Linked DNA regions of Homo sapiens: all the other regions are linked to region 1. The links come from fine-mapping of genetic effects on gene expression. A gene starts in region 1. Each other region holds a variant in brackets. All regions are shown on one strand. Distances are from middle to middle. Region 1 holds the start of PCNX1 (pecanex 1). Region 2 overlaps PCNX1 (pecanex 1). Region 3 has its middle 180 kb from the start of SIPA1L1. Region 4 has its middle 45 kb from the start of RGS6.

The links. PIP is the estimated chance that this variant, and not a neighbour inherited with it, causes the effect. A credible set is the group of variants that fine-mapping cannot tell apart.
Region 2: its variant is the best candidate, but not a certain one, in a credible set for the expression of PCNX1 in adrenal gland (GTEx, PIP 0.81).
Region 3: its variant is the best candidate, but not a certain one, in a credible set for the expression of PCNX1 in whole blood (GTEx, PIP 0.56).
Region 4: its variant is the best candidate, but not a certain one, in a credible set for the expression of PCNX1 in sigmoid colon (GTEx, PIP 0.78).

The regions. Positions count from the first base shown.
Region 1 is chr14:70,904,871-70,910,193 of GRCh38, reverse strand. PCNX1 (pecanex 1) reads right to left here and starts at 2,735. Exons shown (of 36, transcript NM_014982.3): 1 at 2,191-2,735. The coding sequence starts at 2,343. RefSeq lists silencers at 1,583-1,922, 2,083-2,422, 2,643-2,832.
Region 2 is chr14:70,926,327-70,931,649 of GRCh38, reverse strand. All of the region lies in intron 1 of PCNX1 (pecanex 1), which reads right to left. Among named protein-coding and RNA genes, the nearest start is that of PCNX1, 22 kb to the right of the region's middle. The variant G/A (reference allele first, on the strand shown) is at 2,597.
Region 3 is chr14:71,133,119-71,138,441 of GRCh38, reverse strand. No RefSeq gene overlaps it. Among named protein-coding and RNA genes, the nearest start is that of SIPA1L1, 180 kb to the left of the region's middle. The variant G/A (reference allele first, on the strand shown) is at 2,933.
Region 4 is chr14:71,884,841-71,890,163 of GRCh38, reverse strand. It overlaps a transcript of RGS6 not described here. Among named protein-coding and RNA genes, the nearest start is that of RGS6, 45 kb to the left of the region's middle. The variant G/A (reference allele first, on the strand shown) is at 3,242.

The DNA of each region.
Region 1 (5,323 bases):
AGGAGGAGGAGGAGGAGGAGGAGGAGGAGGAGGAGGAGGGGGAGGAGGGGGAGGGGGAGGAGGAGGAGGGGGAGGAGGAGGAGGGGGAGGAGGAGGGGGAGGAGGAGGAGGAGGAGGAGGAGGAGGAGGGGGAGGAGGAGGAGGAGGAGGAGGAGGAGGAGGGAGGAGTCGTCGTCTAGTTAGGTTTTGAAGATACAGCCCCTATTGCTCATAAGCAATAAGTGGCTGAGAACTCTAAAACCAGCAGTCATGCTAACCGCATGTACTGAACTTTGGAAGTTCATTTCTCAAGGCTCTCCATCTTATTATCCATTTCAGGTAAAGGTCTGAACTGATTAAGAACAGCTCAGCACCTTCTGGTTTGGGAAGAGTGGGACTGCCATTAATTGAGATAAGGAAGTCAGAAGCAATCTCAGAAAGTGTCTAGTACATGGTAGACACTCAAATATGTGAGAATTCAGTTTAACTGAACTCCCAAAATGAAGGAAGTAAACTCAATGTCCTGGTTTCCATTTGCTCTAATATTCTTTCAGTAACATTTGCTAACTACACAAAGAGACTTAACCATGACCACACAGTTTACTACAAGTGTTAAAAAAGAAATCTTACACTGGACCCAGCAACTAATCCTTACCTCTCAAAAATCATTTTCAGTTTTAAATCTACAATTCTTCTGGACATAGAAGAAATTTGCTTTGAAAATTTTGTGACAGCCTGAGGATTCTTAAACCCAAAGTAATTAACCCGTTCATTAATGATGTCATATTCCTGGAAGGTATAGTAGTGCAAATAGAACTCCCTAGGCCAAAATTAATTGAAAATTATAATACTTCACGATAAATTTTCAGAATGCAACAAGACTGAACAAGTCCCCCTAATAAAACAAGCCACAAGCCATCAGCATTTCTTAATGGCTTTTTTTTTTAACCTCAAACAATAAGTCCCTTCAAAACAATTTCAACGAAAAATGTGAATCTGCTTGAGAATGTGCACATCTTCCCTCAAGCAGACACTTTTCCTGCCAATTAGTGAAACTGAACTTCACTTAGGGAAGAATTGGGTGTCCTCACCTTTTGCACTTCTCATAGTGGTCCTCCGGGATTTTCTAACTCAGCACCCTGTCTCTAGCTCCACAAAGAACCTCAAAGTTAGCAGAAATACATTCAAAGGAATTCTCCTAAAATAAAAAGTTCAGATCCTTTCCTCCCCTCTGACTACTTTAAAATTTTATATGAAGCCTTAAGTAACATCTCTGTCCACACGAGTTTCCCTAACGCCCCACCCTAACCTGTGCTTTAGAAACTGCGCTTAACAACTTTCAATGTTGCTTTAAAAACACAGATGATTCAGAGAAGCTGATCGCACCGAATTCAGCAACAGGCAGTACTCTCTCTCCCTACTCCTATCCGCCAAAGGCCTTGAACCAAGCCAAACAAATCTGCTGAAATGCCAGCCAGATTCCCCGTTATCTCCCCGCTCCCTCCCCCCAGGGAGGCCAGGAAGCACCACGGCCACCGGCCACGGGGCCGAACAGAGAAGAACCGCTGCGAAGCACAACAACGGTTTTTTAGAGGCAGGAGGGTTCCGAGCCGGGTTTTCAGCCACCACCCAGGACCCCTGGAGGACGAGCCCGGACGACCCCCACACACACTCGGAGCAGAGCCGCACGGTCCCCCGCGCTCCCGGGGCTCCGCACGCGGATTAGCGGCGAGGCGGCGGGCGGCCTCTCCCGGGAGCCCCGGACGAGGGCCGCGGCGGGGGCGGGCAGTGCCGGATGCCGGGCGCCCGAGGAACCCAGCGTGCCAAGGATGGATGCGGCGTCCCCTAAAGCCGCAGAGCGCTCGGCGCCTGCCACACAGCCCCACGGGCGGGGGGCCCCGGCGGGGACGGCCTAGCCGAGTGGCCGCAGGAGGGAACCCCGAGAAGGGGCCTAGGACGCTGCCGCTTCCCAGTGAGCGGGCGGGGGCGGCCGGCGCGGGTTGCCGTGGGCTCGTTGCTCGTGTCACCTCCGAAACCAGGAAAGCCCCGAAGAGAGGAGTGGGAGCACGCAGTGGGGGCGGGGAGCCTCACACCGAGAGGGTGGCGGCCCCCGGGGGACGAGACCCCGTGGAAGAGGAAGAGGGCGCGACCCCAGCATCTCCCCACCGGCTCGCGGGGAAGGAGCCACCCGCTCCCCGCCCCCACACTCACCATGTAGAGGGTGAAGGGCAGGCCCAGCAGAAAGAGCCACAGGTAGAGGTGCAGCGCGTTCACGAAGGTGGCCTGGTGCGGGTCGTAGTACCAGCCCCCGCTGAGCGCGGCCCACACCCCCTGTCGGAGGATCTGCAGCGTCTGCGACCCCATCCCCACCCGGCGCCGCCGCCGTCGCCGCCGCCGCCGCCGCCGTCCCCGCCCCGGCCCCAGCTCGGCCTCGGTCGCCGGAGCCTGCAGCTGCCCCGTCTATCCACCTCCGGAGCTCCGGGTGAGCGAGCCGGCGCTTCGGCGGTCGCTGGTGCTGCTGCAGGAGGAGGAGGAGGCAGCAAACGAGGAGGAGGAGACCCGAGAGGAGGAGGCGGCGAGCGGCGGGGCGGAGGACGGCGGAGAGGAGGAGACCGGCCTTCTGAGAGCCGCCGCCATCTTGTCTCCTAACACCCGGAGCCGCGGCCCGGCCCCCGCCACCCGCGGCCCGCCAGCGCCCCCACTGCCGCCGCCGCGACCCCCGCCGGCCGCCAGCCCTGGGCCAGGCAGAGAAAGAGGCCCGGCGCCAGGGAGCGACCGAGAGGAAGCCGCGCCCCCTCCAGCTCCTCCTCTCCGCTCCCTCCGCCCCCTGGGCCGGCTACGGTGCGCGCCGCGCCTGGTCCGCCGCGGGCGCCTCCTGCCGACGTCCGGGAGAAGCGCGCGTCAACGCGGCCGGGGTTCAGGGCCCCGGGGGCTGCGGAGGTGGCTGAGACGCGGCTGGCTGGTCCGGAGGACCCCATTCTGCCCCTGGTAGGCCCCCTGGCAAGTTCGCCTACGAGTCTCTAAACGGGGTCTTTCTGACTCCGAAACTAACAGATCTTGACTCCAGAAAAGCGTCCTGCCTGTCATTTATGATATTTGTGAAAGACCTAGGAACAACTGAAGCTAACACCTGAGATACTGAAGGCCTGGAAGAGTTAGGTACGGCTGATGACACTGTTGAAAAGTCATAAACGCACCCAAGTTGAGCAAGAACTGTGTTGGCCCGTGTGTGAGAAAAAATAGCCACGTCCAGACTGGGAGAATTTACTACTTCCAAAGACAAGTTAATAGAAGCGGCACAGGACATGGAAGTATGGAGTGGACAGGTTACCATTTGTACGCGGTGATTGTATTTTTAAATGTGCTGTAACTAGCAGCCATTTTTATTAATGGGCCAATCTAAACAGGGTTGAAAAAGATTAACCGTGACGCCACCCCAAATTACAATAGGGTCTTGTAGATCTCTTTTTATAGCTGTAAAAACGGAATCATTCTTGGCTCTGTGTAATGTTTATAAGGCGTGTCTGATCTCACTGAATAAAATTTTATAGAAAAGTTTGAAATTTGAGTTTATTGAAGTTTGGCTTTTATGGCAATAAAAGTACTGTGTATTCCCAGATTACAGTTGCTATAATTAATGAGGGAAACAAGAGCCAAAGGAAACTGGTGATATTTTAAGAAGAGTAATGAAAAACCGTTACAATACCTCCCAGTGCCATACCACTTTATAGTTGCTCAGACACTATCACACCCATTCCATTCAGACCTCAGGACAACCCTTTGAGGGCAGCATAGCAGCTATTGTTATTTTATGGATGAGAAAACCTGTAAACTCAAGTAAGTGATTGGCCAAATGCTTATGGCCACTTATTGCTCATAAGCAATAAGTGGTTGAGAACTCTAAAACCAGCAGTCATGCTAACTGCATGCACTGAACTTTGGAAGTTCATTTCTCAAGGCTCTCCACCTTATTATCCATTTCAGGTAAAAGTTTGAATTGATTAAGAACAGTTCAGCACCTTCTGGTTATCTGTGACCAGCTTAAATACATGACCAGTTTTCGTCAAAGTGCAAATTCTTAGGGCATCATTCTATAGACACTCTGTGGGGTGGTACCCAGCAATCTGTTTTAACAAGTCCTCCGGAGGATTCTAATGTAGCTTACCACTGTAGAACACCACACCATCCCTAGCCTTGATTTGTTTATGTCCTTATAACCACAAAGCCACTGAGTTCCAGTAAGATACCTTGAAATTGAGAGCTGTGAGTAAACACTGGACAAAATATACTTTAAAATATATTTGTATATCTAAAAGCAAAATTATGATTAAATAATGCAATTTTACAATTAAAATAGTGGCCTTGAAGCTGGTGTCATAGATACCAGCTATTGTCAAGTTTTCATTTGTTTCCCCTAAAGGAGACAGGAAAGCTCTCTGGGAAGGTTTTGGAAGTAATCCCAACCTTTCCAACACAAAGAAAGATGTAAACAAGGATAAAATTCCAATACCACATCAGTTTCCACAACAGCAAAGATCCGCTATGGTTTAATATAAAAGGATTAACTGTAATGAGGGTGAGGTGGATGGGGAGAAATGGAAACTAGAACCAGATACATCCGTGGAATCGGAGGCCAACCCAGCTGGCGTGATAAACGTTCAGCCAGAATGCAGTATCTGGAGGATATGGAACCGGCAGCAGGCCAGGAAGGCAGCCGGCATCAGGCCTGTTAAACAGAGAATGTGGGTGTTGTAAGCCAATGGACAGCTGGAACACATAGCCTTGGAAAATCCAGGAGTGGGCAAAAATTGGGAAATCACGGCAAGCCTTGAGAAAGTGTGTTGCTTATAGCAAGGCCCCAGCTTCAGTGCTGGGGTTTTCTAGGTCTGCCCTTTCGTTTCTACAGGGAATTGATGAAAACAAATAGAACTCAGATCCTTGAGCTACTGAGATACTCACTGGAGGCCCAAGTTTGAGGACCCAGCAGGACAAAACAAATATTCAAAGGCTGGATCTGGGGGGACAGAGTGAGACTTACAAACAAAGCAGGAGCCTAATACCTAGAACTAGGACCAAACTTCACACTGAGCATGGTTGCCTTATGTTGAAGTCCCAGAGTGTTAATATAAAGCTCTAGTTGCCCTCCAAAATGACTGGGATTGATCCCAGAACCTGAGGTGTGAGTCACATGGCAATAGCCATTGGGTGAAAAGGGGTTAGCAGGATTGGCAGGCCCAGAGAGTAGAAACAGCAGTTAGAGACTACATCTTTCAGCTCTGGACTGGTAGGAGCATTTTAGAAAAATACTAATTAACTGACTTAGGGAGTAGCAATTGAGAGTATC
Region 2 (5,323 bases), 21 kb before region 1:
AAAAAGAACTAAAAATTAAATAATACCAAAAAAATCTGGCAGATGAAAACAAAAATTAGCAGAATTTGAAAGCAGTATGCCTTATGCCCTAGACATGGGGAAAACACACAAACGGGCACACTAATCCTATCGTAAATTGTAAGTTCCATCCATCAGTATATCTGGACTAACTTTTCTTAACACTCTTTCAGGAGATGAAAACTAAACATTTGTAACAATAGCAGTGCTGCCTTCTTTCTACTGTCTGCCTAAAAATCAGTCCATCCTATGGCTGTTTACATTGTGGGCAAATTACTAATGGGAAAAAGAATTAACCATTTTTTTGTAAAGCTCTTAAGATGGCCAATTGGCCTCAAGTTTTAGCTTTTTTACTGGTATGCCTGAAGGGGTGGGGAGTTGGGAACACCTCTACTTACTCACAATGATAGAAAAACCCCCTTTGGCTTTTTCCCAAAGAAAATGGGCAAGTTAATTCCTGCAGTGTTTGCAATTCAGTTCCATAGCTCTCCCACCTTTCATTCTTGGTGGATGGAGAGAATGCTGGTGAGAAGGGAGAAAGAAGGGTTTAGTACTCAAATATTACCTATAAATTTAGAAAATGTTAATTAAGAGGGATCAGAAAGAATATGAATGTTTTTAATAAGGCTTACAGTTTTCCATATATAAGCTGCCCCCCAAAGGACTCAGAAAAGGCCCTGATATCAATGGCCATGGCTCCAGGGATTTAGCCCTCTTGCCACAGTCTCCTTTGGGGATTGAGGTAAAGCATTCCAGTTAGAAGTCTCCTTTCAGAGGATGGAGCTGCAGAGGAAAAGGAGAAAAGTACTCTCAATGTTGAGATTCAGGCATACTTTCCCAAAGGAAAAAAAAAAACATAATATTCTACTGAGCTAACTACACAGGGCCAAACTAATTTCAGAGGGCCAGCTGGGAACCTGTGTACAAACTCACAGTGCATTTTCCCCAAAGGCAACTGGTTTACAAGTGAGCTATTGGAACTTGAGCCTACCTGTATTTCTGCAAATGTCTGCTACATAAATATTTTAATATAAATAGAATTAAAAATAATAGATATTATCTTTTTTAAAAATCTGTATCTATCTTTTAAAAATCTGTTTGTCACTCCATAACCTACATTTGAATTAATATTTATATTTTTAGCTACAATAGAATGCTGTTCTTAGGGAGGTAACAGTCAAAATTTATGCCACATCACCTAGCTGAAAAGAGACTAAAATAACATAGCACATGCAACTCATCGGCAACAGAGATTGAGTCTATTACTCAGGGCAGAAGTCACTAAGCCAGGAGTTAGAGATGAGCAGCTTGATCCATATGAAGCCAGGTACAGTGACATTCGCCTGTAGCCCCAGCTCTTTGGAAGGCTGAGGTGGTAGGACTGCTTGAGCCCAAAAGTTCAAGGCTGCAGTGTCCTATGACTGTACCTGTGAGCAGCCACTGCACTCCAGCCTAGGCAACATAGGGAGACCCTGTCCCTTAAAAACACACAAACACATACACACATACACACACACAACATATGCACAGGCACACACACATGCATGAGAAGAAAGGGCACAGACATGAAAAATAAGGGATGAAGAAAAAAACCCAACAAATAAATGTGAGGATGTATACTGATGGACTAAAATAATCTTATGTACATTATAGAATTTTTCCTATACTTTTATTTAAAGAAAGAAAATCATTTATACAATTTGAATCTATAAATTCTGGTGAAAGTCAATGTCCTCATAATTAAAATGTTACGTATATCCTTTCTACTCTATTTCATGAAATGATTTTGTCCAATTTATTCACATATTTTTAGCAACAGAAGTTTCTTCATCACAGAAGTCATTATGAGTTACCTAACACAGGTTTACATAGCACATCTACATCATCATTTCAGTATAAGTTTGAGTTCTAACACTTTCTGTATGATGCTGTTCCTAGGAATTCTGTGTAACCAAATGTCCATTTGTACTTAATTAGGACAACTTTTCTTTTTTTCACTCATCACATAAGTACATATTCTTATCTCCATAAGCTACTTTTTAACTTAATCCAACAAGTGTTAATGACATCCAACACTTGCAAATTATTAAGTTATAACCCTAGTAACAGTTATGATTAGCTATGCTAAATTTTAAAAAACTGTTTAAAAATCAAGTCATGTTGCTACAAACACACACAAGAAAAACAACTGGATGAAAAACAGTAACTGGGCAAGTGGAAAGTAATACAAAAGACTTTGTAATAAGTCAGATAATATAATTCCTTCTTGGCTGAGGGATACTTTTGGGTCAGGGGGCACCTAGCCTAATAATCAAATATATATAGTCATATGGTAGACTAGAGATAGAATGCTTCAAAACAAGAGCAAGACGGTAAGAGGGGAAAAAAAAAAACACTGAATGTACAGCAGAGCTTTCCCCGAGTTTCCAAAAGCATCTTTAGATCACTGTAGAGAACAAAAGAAATAATAATTTTCATGTAATCCCAAAAGGGTATCCAAACAATTCCTATCTAGAAGCATTTGTTAAAGATAGCACACTTTGAAATTTTTCAAAAATGAAGGTAACAAAGAGGCCCC[G/A]GAATAGAACATACCCAACAATCTAAACTTTATAGATAGAAATGGTGATTCACAAAAACCTTTTACAAAACTAACTCATCCTATCCTATGTGTTGAAATGGTTTTCTGATGAGATTAAGGTACCTATTCCCAAACCATCAAGTAGCAGCAAGCCAAAAGTGTAACGGTTTTAAAAACTGCTATGTCTGAGAATTATAACTGGTTATTAAAATAAAGCAGAAAGGTAGAGGTATGTATGCATATTAAAGAAATAGTCTGGTACAGATTTGTCTCCCAGTATTATCCGGATGGTATCATCTGGAGACTGCATGCCATTCTTTACCCCAAAATTCCCAAAGTAAAAACTGAAAGAATGGCTATATAGGAATATAACTTGAGAGGCACTAACAATGTTTTGATTTATATGTGATTTTCTTAGTAAACCTAACCATTCTGGAAAAAGGAAAAGGTGCCCTACACTAAGAACTATCTTCATTAATATTTCCTTTTGTAAATTAGTAACAATATTTTACTGTATAAATCACTCTTTTATTTATCAGTCTAAGTAAATCCCACAGTAAATTGATAAACACTGAATTTCTAAATGGTAAATATGAGGACCAAAGCTGTCTCATGGCAAGTCCAACTTAAATAGCTTTACCTATCCTGTTTCTCCCATTTGTTCCTGATATATTCTATTGCAACATTTTTTCAGGATTCACAATTAAGTAAAAGTAAGCATTCATTAACAAATTCTGTCAACATGACACTGCAATTCTGAAGAATAGCAGCTAGGTTATTGTTTTAACATACCTCACAAAATGCCAGTTCAGGATACATTTAATGGGATTACCTTATGAGCAAATACATTAAAAACAATGAGATTCTCCTTGCTCCTATATAAAAGTATAACTATATTCTTATAGACGTAGTATAATAAGCAAGCACAAAATAATAACAGTAACTCAAATTTAAAGCTTTTAAGAATCAAAATAATTCAATAATGAAAGTATTAGGTCAAAGGAAGAGTCAAACTATGAGAATTAAGTAAAAATAAATATTTTAAAATGAAATATTAATATATACAAAAATTAGATCAAAAATTATTTTGCTTATATTCTTTTCTGTTTCACTAACATTTAGTAGAAGAAACCGCAAGCTGAATTCTAACACAAGAATGAAAATCAGGCCTGGCGCAGTGGCTCACACCTGTAATGCCAGCACTTTGGGAGGCCAAGGTGGGAGGATCACTTGAGGTCATGAGTTTGAGACCAGTCTGGCCAACATGGTGAAACTGTCTCTACTAAAAATATAAAAATTAGCGAGACTTGGTGGTGCACGCCTGTAATCTCAATTACTAGGGAGCCTGAGGCAGGAGAATCGCTTGAACCTGGGAGGCAGAGGTTGCAGTGAGCCAAGATCGCACCACTGCACTCCAGCCTGGGCAAGAGAGTGAGACACTGCCTCCCAGAAAAAAATAAATAAATAAATAAATAAATAAAAGAGAGAGAATGAAAATCAATAAGATATATAAACTGTAAAAAGTATATTAGCTCTCATAAGAGCATTACCAGAACCCAAATATCATTTCCATCACACTTGCCCTGAGCTCAATTTGCTTGAAACAGAATGATACTATTGCATGCTGTATAATCCATTTCTACCTTTAAACAGAAGTACTACAATTACGCACATTTAACATACTATATTTAAGGTGAAGTAAATGTGAAAGATGCCTAACAGAAAAAAATTTAAAAACGTAGAAGAGCATATCCTACTACCACCATAAAGGCAACTAAGACACACTTACAGAACAGGAGCTTGATCCATTCATGCAACAATTTACTGAACACCTATTAAGTCTCAGATATTCTACTAAGGAATGTTAATACGGAAATAAACATGATCCTTTCTCTCTTTGAGCTTCTTAGGAGAATGACAAATTTAGTGTTTTACCAAGCACTACATACACTGGATTATATTGCCACAATCCTTTGAAGAAAGTACTGTTATTATCTTAATTTTAAAGGAGAAAACTGAGGCCATGAAGTCATATGCCCACAGCTGGTAAGCGGCAGAAAGTGAAGCGATACCCAGTCTGACTCCACAGCCTGCATTTTTAAGCACTAAACTATACTGTCTCCCTCCAATGCAGTGTTTCTCACCCATTTTCTTCATTATTGTCCTCCTAAGTAGCCTTTTCAGACATTCTTTTCCTCATCACGCTCCCTGTGAAATTTTAATACCAGATACACTGCACACTTGTTTGTGCTGCATGTACATCTGTACTTTATATGTAAAAAGAATAAGATTTTTTTTTCACACATGCATCCCTCAAGAGTTAATTTCTGCCCCCTTGAGGGTAACACCACACCCACTGAGAACATAAACTCTGGGGCAATGTTCCTCGCTGTGGGCACCGTTGACACTTAAAGCCAGACAATCCTTTGGTGTGGGGCGCTGTCATGTGCATTATAGGAGGTTTAAAATCCCCTTGGTTTCTACCCACTAGAGGCCTACAGCACTGCTGTTTCAAGTTAGGTTAAAATCTCCCAAAAGAGGTTTACATTCCTTGAAACATGCAGCCAATTGGCAGCAAGTGCTTCTCTTGCTGCTATTTACATATTCATAAGGGCTACAGTACAAATTTTGTTCATATTGAACTGGAATGGGCAGGATATACACAGACTGTAAATGCTGCATCTCTGTAGCGAGAGTGAAGGAGCAGGTGAGACGGCAGGGGCAATG
Region 3 (5,323 bases), 230 kb before region 1:
TTCATTCAGATGCTCTGTGGTCAGCATATCCTGTCGATTCTTCTTCCAGAAATCATTTTCCTATCCCTAGCCCCCTCTCTTTATTCCCAGTGTCAATGGAATGCATGCCATGTGCCATTCGGCCACTCAAATTTTCCTTTATGATGAGATGCTCATTCCCCTTGACTGCACAAAGTTAAGTCCCTCCCCAGGGATTTCCCTCCATCCAAAGGAAACTGATTCACCCAAGGTTAAAGCTCCTCCTGGGGGTAGCCCACATCCTATAACTAATCAATGTTGGCGGGGTGGCCCCAGCCCCTGTACCTCAAATCCAGACAACTCTGAAGGACCATCAGAGACCCAGAACTTCCTATGGGATTGGCTGAGGCCTCTGTGGTGACTGCATTGCAGTTCAGCTTCTCCCTCTGGCCAAAGTGCTTCCTTCACTCCTCACAGGTTGAGGGCTATGGTTGCACTGGAGAAAGACAGCAAAAGGCCAAGGGCAGTTACTCTTTGCGAGGACAAAGTGTTGAAGTCCAACAGGCCTCCTTGGTAGCATATAAAGAGATCCTGATCTTCTTCAACCAGAGGGCAGAAGCAGCTGAGGCTCAGAAGTGAATGGAGCTCCAGAGAAGACTGGACTCTCCATTTAGATGAGTCCACTATGCCAAGGCCCCAGCTGGGAGGGAGACTTGAGATGGGAATCATGGCAGCTCTAGAGCTATCTGTGAGATTGGCTGAAGCCTCTGTCATAACTGCATCACAGTTCAACTTGAGGTTCTTGAAACCCCAGGTCCTCCAAACACTGGCCTGCAGATGTGACCCATACCCCTCTGCTTGAAGACAACTCAAAGACTCCTCATGCCTTTCATAACTTATCCCCACCTCCCTGCGTGGCTAAAAGCTACAGTCAAGCCACAACACAACCAGGCCAGGAATGTACTGGGTCCCTTGAGGGAGAAGGAGACTATACATCAAAGACGCTATAGGGCCTAGCCAGCATGTACTGGCAGAAGCAGAGAGGATATTTATGGGGTGGGATCTGGAGGGCACTGAATCTAGAGAAATAGAATATAAAGTTGGATAATAGAGAGTTTATTAATATGAGGACATTCTTCTATGATACAAGATGAATATCCTGCTGATATGGACAGGAGACAGGGAAATACTGGGTAGAAGAGGGCAGTTCCCTGGCAAAGGTCCCACCTTCAAGCCTGGATACCCATGGCCCTAAATGGGAACAGGCATTCCTGTTTTCATGTTCAAAAGTTGCCTTTTAGCCTGCCACACCCGTTTATCCTGTACCCATATAAACCCCAAACCCCCAGCTCCAGGAGTAGATGAGCAGATGAACAGAAGAGCAGCAGAGAAGGAGAGAAGAGAAGGAACATTGGGAGGAGTTCAGCTGGGGACCGCTGGAGAGGAAATCAGCCTCAGGACAGCCAAACTCCAGGAGAAGATCACCTTCCTACTTCATCCCCTTTCCAGCTCCCCATCCATCCCACTGACAGCCACCTCCACCACCCAATAAAACCCCCACATTCACCATCCTCCAAGTCTGTGTGTCACCTGATTCAGGACACTGGACAAGAGCTCAAGATACAGAAAGCTGTCACACTGGCCCTCTGCCCTTGTGAAAAGGCAGAGAGTCTACTAAGCTGTTTAACACTTAAGCCATTGGTGGATGGCAAAGCTAAAAGAGCGCACTGTAACACATGCCCACTTGGGCTTCAGGGGTCACAGGCGCCCACCCCTAGATGCTGCTGTGGGGCCACAGCCCAGAAACACTCGCCCCAGCTCCTGCACCTGCCTGTCTGTGTGCTCCCCCTCCCATAAGGGGTTTGAGCAGCGGCTGTGGCCAAACAGACAAGCCACACCCCTGTTGCACGTCCTGCGAGGGGGGGTCAGAGAACTCTCCCGTGTCACTGTCAAAGCTCCTATATGCAAATATGCTGCTAGGTTGATTCCTAGAAGCTGGGAAAAAGCACTAGCCCATACTAAGTGAAGTAGCACTGTCAGAATTGCCATGGCAAGTGATAGAGAAAGGGACCGAAGGCCCAGAGAAGTGGGCTTGATAAAACAGGCATTTTATATAAGGTGAGAAAACCCACCAGCCAATTACCTTCCATGGGATGGAGGCCTAGAAAGAATACTTTGACTAGTAAAGTGATCAAAAATGTGTTGATGAGAGGGGCACCAGCATTATTGAAGAAGCTCAGTGGTGGCTGTCCTTTGTAGACCAGGGCTGAGAATAGCAGATGCTCTTATAGAACTCGCTTTCCCTATAGCCACGGGATGATGGGGTTTCAAATTAACAGAGGCCAGGAAGCGCGTGGCATCAGAAACCAGGTGTATGTAATTACTGTAATAAGGAACAAGGGGTGGCAGTCACAGCAGCCTGGCCCAGACAGAATATGACAATTGTTAATAGAACATGGCACTCTGAAGGTCAAGATAGATATGTGGGCAGCCACCAAGGGTCTCACTCAATCTGCACAATCAAGGAGGCTGAGGGAGGCACTCTCATAAAAAGTCACAATCTGTTGTCTAGTTTCTGGACCTGGGCCAGTTTTCAGACCTAGAACTTGGTAGCTGAAAGAAGAGCTGGGCCCTCAGCAGAAACTTGCAACGCCACAGCAATGTATATGGTATGATTACCTTTATTTAGCCTTCCCCACAGGACCTGTGGGCCAAGGGCAATACCCAGAAACTTTGAGGACTGGTTGGACACAGACACAAGGCCTGAGCTAATTGATATTGGACACCCAAGCCACCACCAGGGAGAATGGAGGGTGAGGAGGCCCTATGGGGAGCAGCTAAGAAGGTCCTGGTGCAGGTCTCGCAGTGGGCTCACTGGGTCATAGAACTGTCCCATGGTTATTTCCCATTAAGCATATAAGCAGAATGGACATATTTGGCAGTTAGGTGAACCAACTAGTTAGTCAACCACATT[G/A]AGGAAGGCCAAGTGGAAATCTATGAAATTTCTCCCCACTTCCAGTCAAGATGGTAAATCACCAACAATACTATTAATATATCCTGTGGGGACTAGAAGAGACTTAAAGGAGAGGGTTGGTGGCCTCCATATTCCAACTGAATCACTAGTCATCCAACTGCCCAACAGGTGCACATTGCCCGCTGCCTAGACAGAGCCAATTTATCAAGACGGCAATTGCAACGGAGAAAGAGTAATTCACACAGAGCTGTGTGGGAGACTGGAGTTTTATTATTACTCAAATCAGTCTCTCCGAGCATTTGGGGATCAGAGTTTTTTAAGATGATTTGGCAGGTAGGGTCTCAGGAAGTGGGGAGTGCTGATTGGTCAGGTTGGAGATGGAATCATAGGGGGTGGAAGTAAGTTTTTCCTGCTGTCTTCTGTTTCTGGGTGGGATGGCAGAAATGGCTGAGCCAGATTACTGGTCTGGGTGATGTCAGCTGATCCAGGGAGCACAGGGTCTGCCAAATACCTCAAGCACTGATCTTAGGTTTTACAATAGTGATGTTATCCTCAGGAGCAATTTGGGGAGGCTCAGACTCTTGCAGCCAGAGGCTGCATGACCCCTAAACCGTAATTTCTAATCTTGTAGCTGGTTTGTTAGTCCGATAAAGGCAGACTGGTCCCTAGGCAAGAGGTAGGTTTTTTAGGGGAAAGGCTAGTATCAATTTTGTTTCAGAGTCAAATCATAAACTAAATTCCTTCCCAGGATTAGCTTAGTCTATGCCCAGGAATGAACAAGGACAGCTTAAAGGTTAGAAGCAAGATGGAATCAGTTGGGTCTGATCTCTTTCACTGTCATAATTTCCTCAGTTATAATTTTTGCAAAGGTGGGTTTCAGTCAGGCCCTGCAAAAAGCATACAAATGTGGTATATTTCCTAGAGCAAATTAACAGTGTATCAGGTACCTGGCATACAGCCAATCTGGCAAGTGTATTCTTATCCACCCCTGTAGAAAATGAGGACCAGAAGTAGTTTGCATTCGTGAGGTGAATAACCCTATGCATTAACATGACCTTGCCCCAAGGTTATGTTAATTCTCTGCCCTCTGTCAAAAGATAGTCTGAAGAAAGCTGAACCTTCTGGACATGCTGCAGAACATTACATTCATCCATGACATTGATGACATTATGTCGATCAGACTGGATGAGCAAGAATTGGGAAGTCTGGTGGAGATAAACGCTATCAAGACTCAGGAGCCTGCTGGGACATTGTCTTCAAAATAAAGGACTCAAAAGGAATCACATGTCCTATACAATCAACCTGGGTTCTGAGGTCAGCATAGTCCATTCATGGGAACATTATTCTGGCCCATTTGCCAAGACACATGGAAAGCTACCAGCATTGAGTGGGACCCAGGGGAGAAAATAGCTCCACAGCCAGTCCAGGGTGTGATATAAGCAGTCTTGTCACTTGGTCCATACAATCTGGTATTCAAATTATCTGTGATTGAGAAAAAATGCTATATAGAGTTTATGGTAAACCTAACTGGAGAATCACAATGTAGACCCATAGGGTTCTGAAGTAAGGCAACAGAGAACTATATGCTACGGTTTATATATTTGCAACAGAGAACTACATACTATTTGGAAACAGCTCCTGGTTTGCCCCTGGGGTTTGGTAAAGAGTATTTGATCACACAACTTGTCAGACACTCAGCCACATGTCTGAGGGGGCCTAGTAGGAATCCATCCTGAGATTGAAGTGGTACAGAGGGCCTACGCAGACTGTATGAGCAGGTGGTGCAGACCCTCCCGTGTCATTCACTACTGTCACAGAAGAACTTTTCCTCAGCTCACGCAGATGGCCGATGGGGTGAGGGGTGAATCCCTTACAACCAACTGATGGAGGAGGAAAAAAGCCAAGTTTGGCTCAAGATGGGTTGGTTCAATACGTATCTGCAAACCATTAACGGACTACTGCAGCCATACAGCCCCGTGCTGGTGGTCCTTTAAGACAGTAATGAGGGAAATCATTGCAAGGCAAACATCAGGCTATGAGGTCATCCACGTTATGTGGAAAGAGAGCAGAGGCCAGAAAAAAACATGGAGTCACGGGAATAGCAAATGGCTTGGCTAGTTGGTCAGGGGCCTAGGAGAAAGAAAAGACTGGGGACAGGGGTAGAGGCACATGGACGGATCTCTAGGAGTGGGCATGGAATGTAAAGATTTTTGAGTGCAAGTTAACGCTCACCAGAGAGCATCTGCTGTGGAGGAGGCACTCAAAAACCAAGTAGTCCAAATCATTGGTAGTAGTCCAACCAAGTAGTAGTCTAGTTGACATCAGCCATCTTCTTCAATGGCCACTCCTGTGCTGGCAAAATTGGGTGCATGAGAGGAATAGCTATGGTGG
Region 4 (5,323 bases), 980 kb before region 1:
TCACACATCGCTGTAAAGAAATACCAGAGACTGAGCAATCTGTAAAGAAAAGAGTTTTAACTGACTCACGGTTCTGCAGGCTATACAGAAAGAATGGTGGCATCCACTTCTGGGGGGGCCTCAGAGAGCTTCCAATCATGGCAGAAGGCAAAGTAGGAGCAGACCGTCTTAGGTTAGTGCACAAGTAATCACAGTTTTTGCCATTACTTTTAATGGCATCCAACTAATATATGGCAGGAGAAGGAGCAAGAAAGAGAGAGAGAGAGGAGGTGCTACACACTTTTAAACAACTAGATCTTAGGAGAACTCACTCAGCATCATGAGAATAGTGCCAAGGGGATGGCGTTAAACCATTCGTGAGACGCCTGCCCCCAAGATCCAGTCACCTCCCACCAGGCCCCACCTCCAACACTGAGGATTATAATACAACCTAAGATTTTGTGGGGACACAGATCATATCACTTGGCAAAACAACAACATAGAAAAGTTATCACCAGCCTCTTGCTTTTCCTTTCTGTACCTTACGCCCTGCAAAGTGCGTGCCCCAAGCTCTCCCCCAACTCAATTATCCCCTCTCTGACGAAGCAGTTGGTGTGACCCACTCAGTGAAGTGTCCTTATTAAGGGAGAGTTTCCACAACAGGACTTTTTCCAACTCCCCTTCTCCACCCTCCAGTTTCCCATTCTGTGAGTCCTAAAATCCCCCTTCGCTGACTCTCCATTGCATTTAGGGAAAAAAATCCACACTCCATTTCTCAGTATTTAAGAATATTCACAATTTAAGATCCTTATAGCTACATTTCTCACTCTTTTCTTCTCCAGACAAAGGCAGATATTCACTGCTTCTTCCTCGGTTGCTGTTGGTCACCATGTACTTCCCCGCAATCATATTTCTGTCTGTGCCTTGCCCCCAACCCAGAACGCCCTTCCTCCTACGTCAAACACACCAAAGTCCACCTTTATTTCAAGGCCCAGATCAAATCTGCCTACCTCCATGACATGTTCTCCTCTCCCCTGGACCACAGAGATCCTGCCCGCCTCTGAATTCTCCACCAATCATTTGGCCCTTACTCACACTGTGTCATTATTCATTTGTTTAGATTTTTCTTTCTCAATGGAAGGCCATGACAATATCATGCATCTTTGGTATCTCCAGTGAACCATGCCCAATCCTCAGCTTGTGTTAGATGACAATAATGCTATAGTTAAGAGACACCCTACATCAAAAACTCCTGACTTCATGCTCTTTTCAGGGATCCAATACATTTCAGTGTTTTATTGTAGTTTTCAATGATGTGATAATGCTTAAGAATAACACTAAGGATATATTTTTTAGCTCCTCAGCAACCCAAATGGAGAAGATATATTGAGTCAGCTCAGCTGACTCTTTAGACCAATGTAGGTCCTCTTGAACCTACTTGTTCCCATCATAGTCTGTATGTGCCTGTAATGAGGACAGAAGGCTGTGTACTTTCTCAAATTCCCTTGACCACCTATTTTTTTTTTTCTCTTGAATGAAATCCTACCTATGCCAAGCCACCCTTCTTCCACTGATGGACTTAGATAAAACACCCAGTCTCAGAGCATGAGATGTGACCAACCCAAGCAGGCCAGCTGACACAACCTGAAAGGGGAAAGAGGTTTGTTTCCTGTGGGATGAGCCTCAATCAATAGGAAGCAGGAGGGAGCAAGGCAGATAAATTCCCCCTTCTCTTTTTCTTCTTCTTCTTCTTTTTTTTTTTTTTTGAGACAGAGCTTTTGCTGTGTTGCCCAGGCTGGCATGCAATGACAGGGTCTCGGCTCACTGCAACCTCCACCTCCTGGGTTCAAGCAATTCTCCTGCCTTGTAGCTGGGATTACAGGTGCCCACCACCACACCTGGCTAATTTTTGTATTTTGTTTGTTTGTTTTGTTTTATTTTTGAGATGGAGTTTCACTCTTTTGCCCAGGCTGGAGTGCAGTGGCGCGATCTCAGCTCACTGCAACCTTCACCTTCCAGTTTCAAGTGATTCTCCTGCCTCAGTATTGGGGGAACCCACCCCCAATATTTCAACGTAGGTTCTTTCTATTTTCCATAAGTGTTGGCCAGCTGAGAAATAAAGAGAGACAGTATAAAGAGAGGAATTTTACAGCTGGGCCGCCGGGGGTGACGTCACATATCGGTAGGACCGTGATGCCCGCTTGAGTCTCAGACCAGCAAGTTTTTATTAAGGGTTTCAAAAGGGGAAGGGGTGTAAGAACAGTGAGTAGGTACAAAGATCACATGTTTCAAAGGGCAAAAAGCAGAACTACTAGTAAGGGTCTAACAAAGATCACATGCTTCTGAGGGAACAGGACAAAGGGCAAAAACAGAACTACTGATAAGGGTCCAACAAAGATCACAAGGCAAAGGGCAAAAACAGAACCACTGATAAGGGTCTATGTTCAGCAGTGCACACATTGTCTTGACAAACATCTTAAACAACAGAAAACAGGGTTTGAGAGCAGAGAACTGGTCTGACCACAAATTTACCAGGGCGGAGTTTTTCCCCACCCTAGTAAGCCTGAAGGTACTGCAGGAGACCAGGGCGTATCTCAGTCCTTATCTCAACTGCATAAAACAGACATTCCCAGAGCAGCCATTTATAGACCTCCCCCCAGGAATGCATTCCTTTCCCAGGGTATTAATATTAATATTCCTTGCTAGGAAAAGAATTTAGGGATATCTCTCCTACTTGCACGTCCACTTATAGGCTCTCTGCAAGAAGAAAAATATGGCTCTTTTTGCCTGACCCTGCAGGCAGTGTGACCTTATGGTTGTCTTCCCTTGTTCCCTAAAAATCGCTGTTATTCTGTTCTTTTACAAGGTGCGCTGACTTCATATTGTTCAAATACACATATTTTACAATCAATTTGTACAGTTAACACAATTATCACAGTGGTCCTGAGGTGACGTACATCCTCAGCTTACAAAGATAACAGGATTAAGAAATTAAAGTAAAGACAGGCATAAGAAATTATAAAAGTATTACTTGGGAACTGATAAACGTCCATGAAATCTTCACAATTTACGTTCCTCTGCTGCAGCTCCAGCTGGTCCCTCCGTTTGGGGTCCCTGACTTCCCGCAACACCTCAGCCTCCCAAGTAGCTAGGATTACAGGTGCCCACCAACATGCCTGACTAATTTTTGTATTTTTAGTAGAGATGGGGTTTCACCATGTTGGCCAGGCTGATCTTGAACTCCTGACCTCGTGATCCACCC[G/A]CCTCGGCCTCCCAAAGTACTGGGATTACAGGCGTGAGCCAACAGTTCTCAGCATCTCTTGCATTGAGGTGTCCCCGAGACTATGTTCTGGCAAAAGGTGGTATTAATATATGCAGGAAGAGCAATCTCTAACTGATATGCCCTTCCATAAGCCCTGGATTTCTTTCAAAACTTTGTCAAGATATACCTAGCAGCCTTCAAGTTATACCTAAATTATTTGCCTCCAAAACAAACCAACCAAATTAAAGATATACCTTGCAAACATGCAGTTCACCAAAATTACATGCTGATTGCTTTCATTTTCTACTAGGCTCTAACTGCTACAAAGGTGGGAGCTATGTTGGTCTTGTCCACTGCCTTAACCTCAGTGCCTAACTTCTGCCTGGTGTATGTATCCAAATACACCTTAGACAGAAGACTACTAAACGAAAAAACTCAAACACTGTATTACTGCTTACTTGGATTATCCATGATTAGAACACAACTCACTCATATATTCATTCATTCAGTCAGTCAATATTAATTGATTGCCTACTGTGCAATGTGCACAGTGACGTTAATTGAAGATCCTGCCAGGAATAAAACAAAGATGCTACTCTCAATGAGCTTACCTTTTAATGGGAGAGACAGACAATCAACTCTTAAACAGTAAGAGTTTCAGACAGTGATAAGTGTGATAAGGATGAAGCTACTTTACCTGGAGTGTTCCAAAAAGGCAATATTTAGGCTGAATTCACTGTCATCATATCAACAGGCCTCAACCTTAATCACTTCAGTCCAAAAATTTAAGTTCTGAGAACTAATTGTTTTCTAATGACAAGCAAGGGATGATATGATCAATTTCCCTTATTCAGATTTGGGATTACACGCATTTCTGAATAAAATAAAAGGAAGGGAAGCAAGGGAGAGAAGGAAAGGGAAGGGAATGGAGGGGAAGGGAAGGAGAGGGAAGGGAGGGAGAAAAAGAAAGAGAAAAAAGAGAAGGAGAGTGGGAGGGAGGGAAAGAAGAAAGAAGGAAAGAAGGAAGGAAGGAAGGAAAGAAAGAATTTTATCTCACTAGTATTAAACAGCTTTCCACTAGTATTAAACAGAGAGAGACACTATATGGGTGAAAGAGAAGGCCAAAGGACAGGGTCTTCTCTAAAAGTAGAGACAGCATTGGAAAGAATTGCTAGTATCCACAAGAACAGCCTTCCAACTTTCCTGTGTTCCAAAGAATGCACTGAACGCTGTATTATTAATTTTGCAGCCCTTGTTTATGTTTTAGACTCTCCAACAGCCTCAATCTTTATTCCTCAGATCCTCCTGGGGCTCTTTGATGTGATTCCTGAGCTCCCAAGTGAGCCCTCATCACATCCTAGGAGAACCACGGAGACATTCCCTTCATGCTCTGACCTCTCTCCACCACTCCAGCTCCACAAACAAAGCAAGCTGCCCTTTGAGAATTGGCTCTCCTAAGAGTTGAAGTGAAGAATACTTTTAATTTTTCAAATCCAGAGAGGGCTGTAATACTGCCCAGCTCAGGAATGCTAGAAATTAATGTCACATGTCTTTATACCATGAGTTAGCTTGGCAAATTTTGAAAGGAAAAAATGTTTTTAACTTGGCTATGTCGATGGAGTAGAAATGTTTGGTTTCCGTTTATTTTCTTCAGTGTTGTTTGTTTTCTTTAGTGTCGACGGAGTAGAAATGTTTAGGTTTTGTTTGTTTTGTTTAGTGTTGATTAAATGAAAATTTGTTTATAATTTAAATACCCTTGTCTCTTTCTGTAGGTGGGTTGGAAGAATGGACAGGGTTCAAGAGGGTAAAGGAAGCGTGGGTGAAGGCCTTCTCAGCCCAGCTGAGGGATATGCTAAGGGATGGCAATAGTATTGGACAGAAAGCTGCTACATTTGCAGTGCTGTCAGTTTCCAGAAAATGGGGATGGTGGAGGTCAGGACTAGCATGAGGCAAATGAGGCATTCAGGGCACAAAATTTCAGGAGGCAAAAAATTTAAGGAGGTGCTCAGGTGCCTGCCCTTATACCACAGGGAACGAAAGGGCCTCCTTAAATTGTATGCTCCAGGGCCCACTCTTACTGCA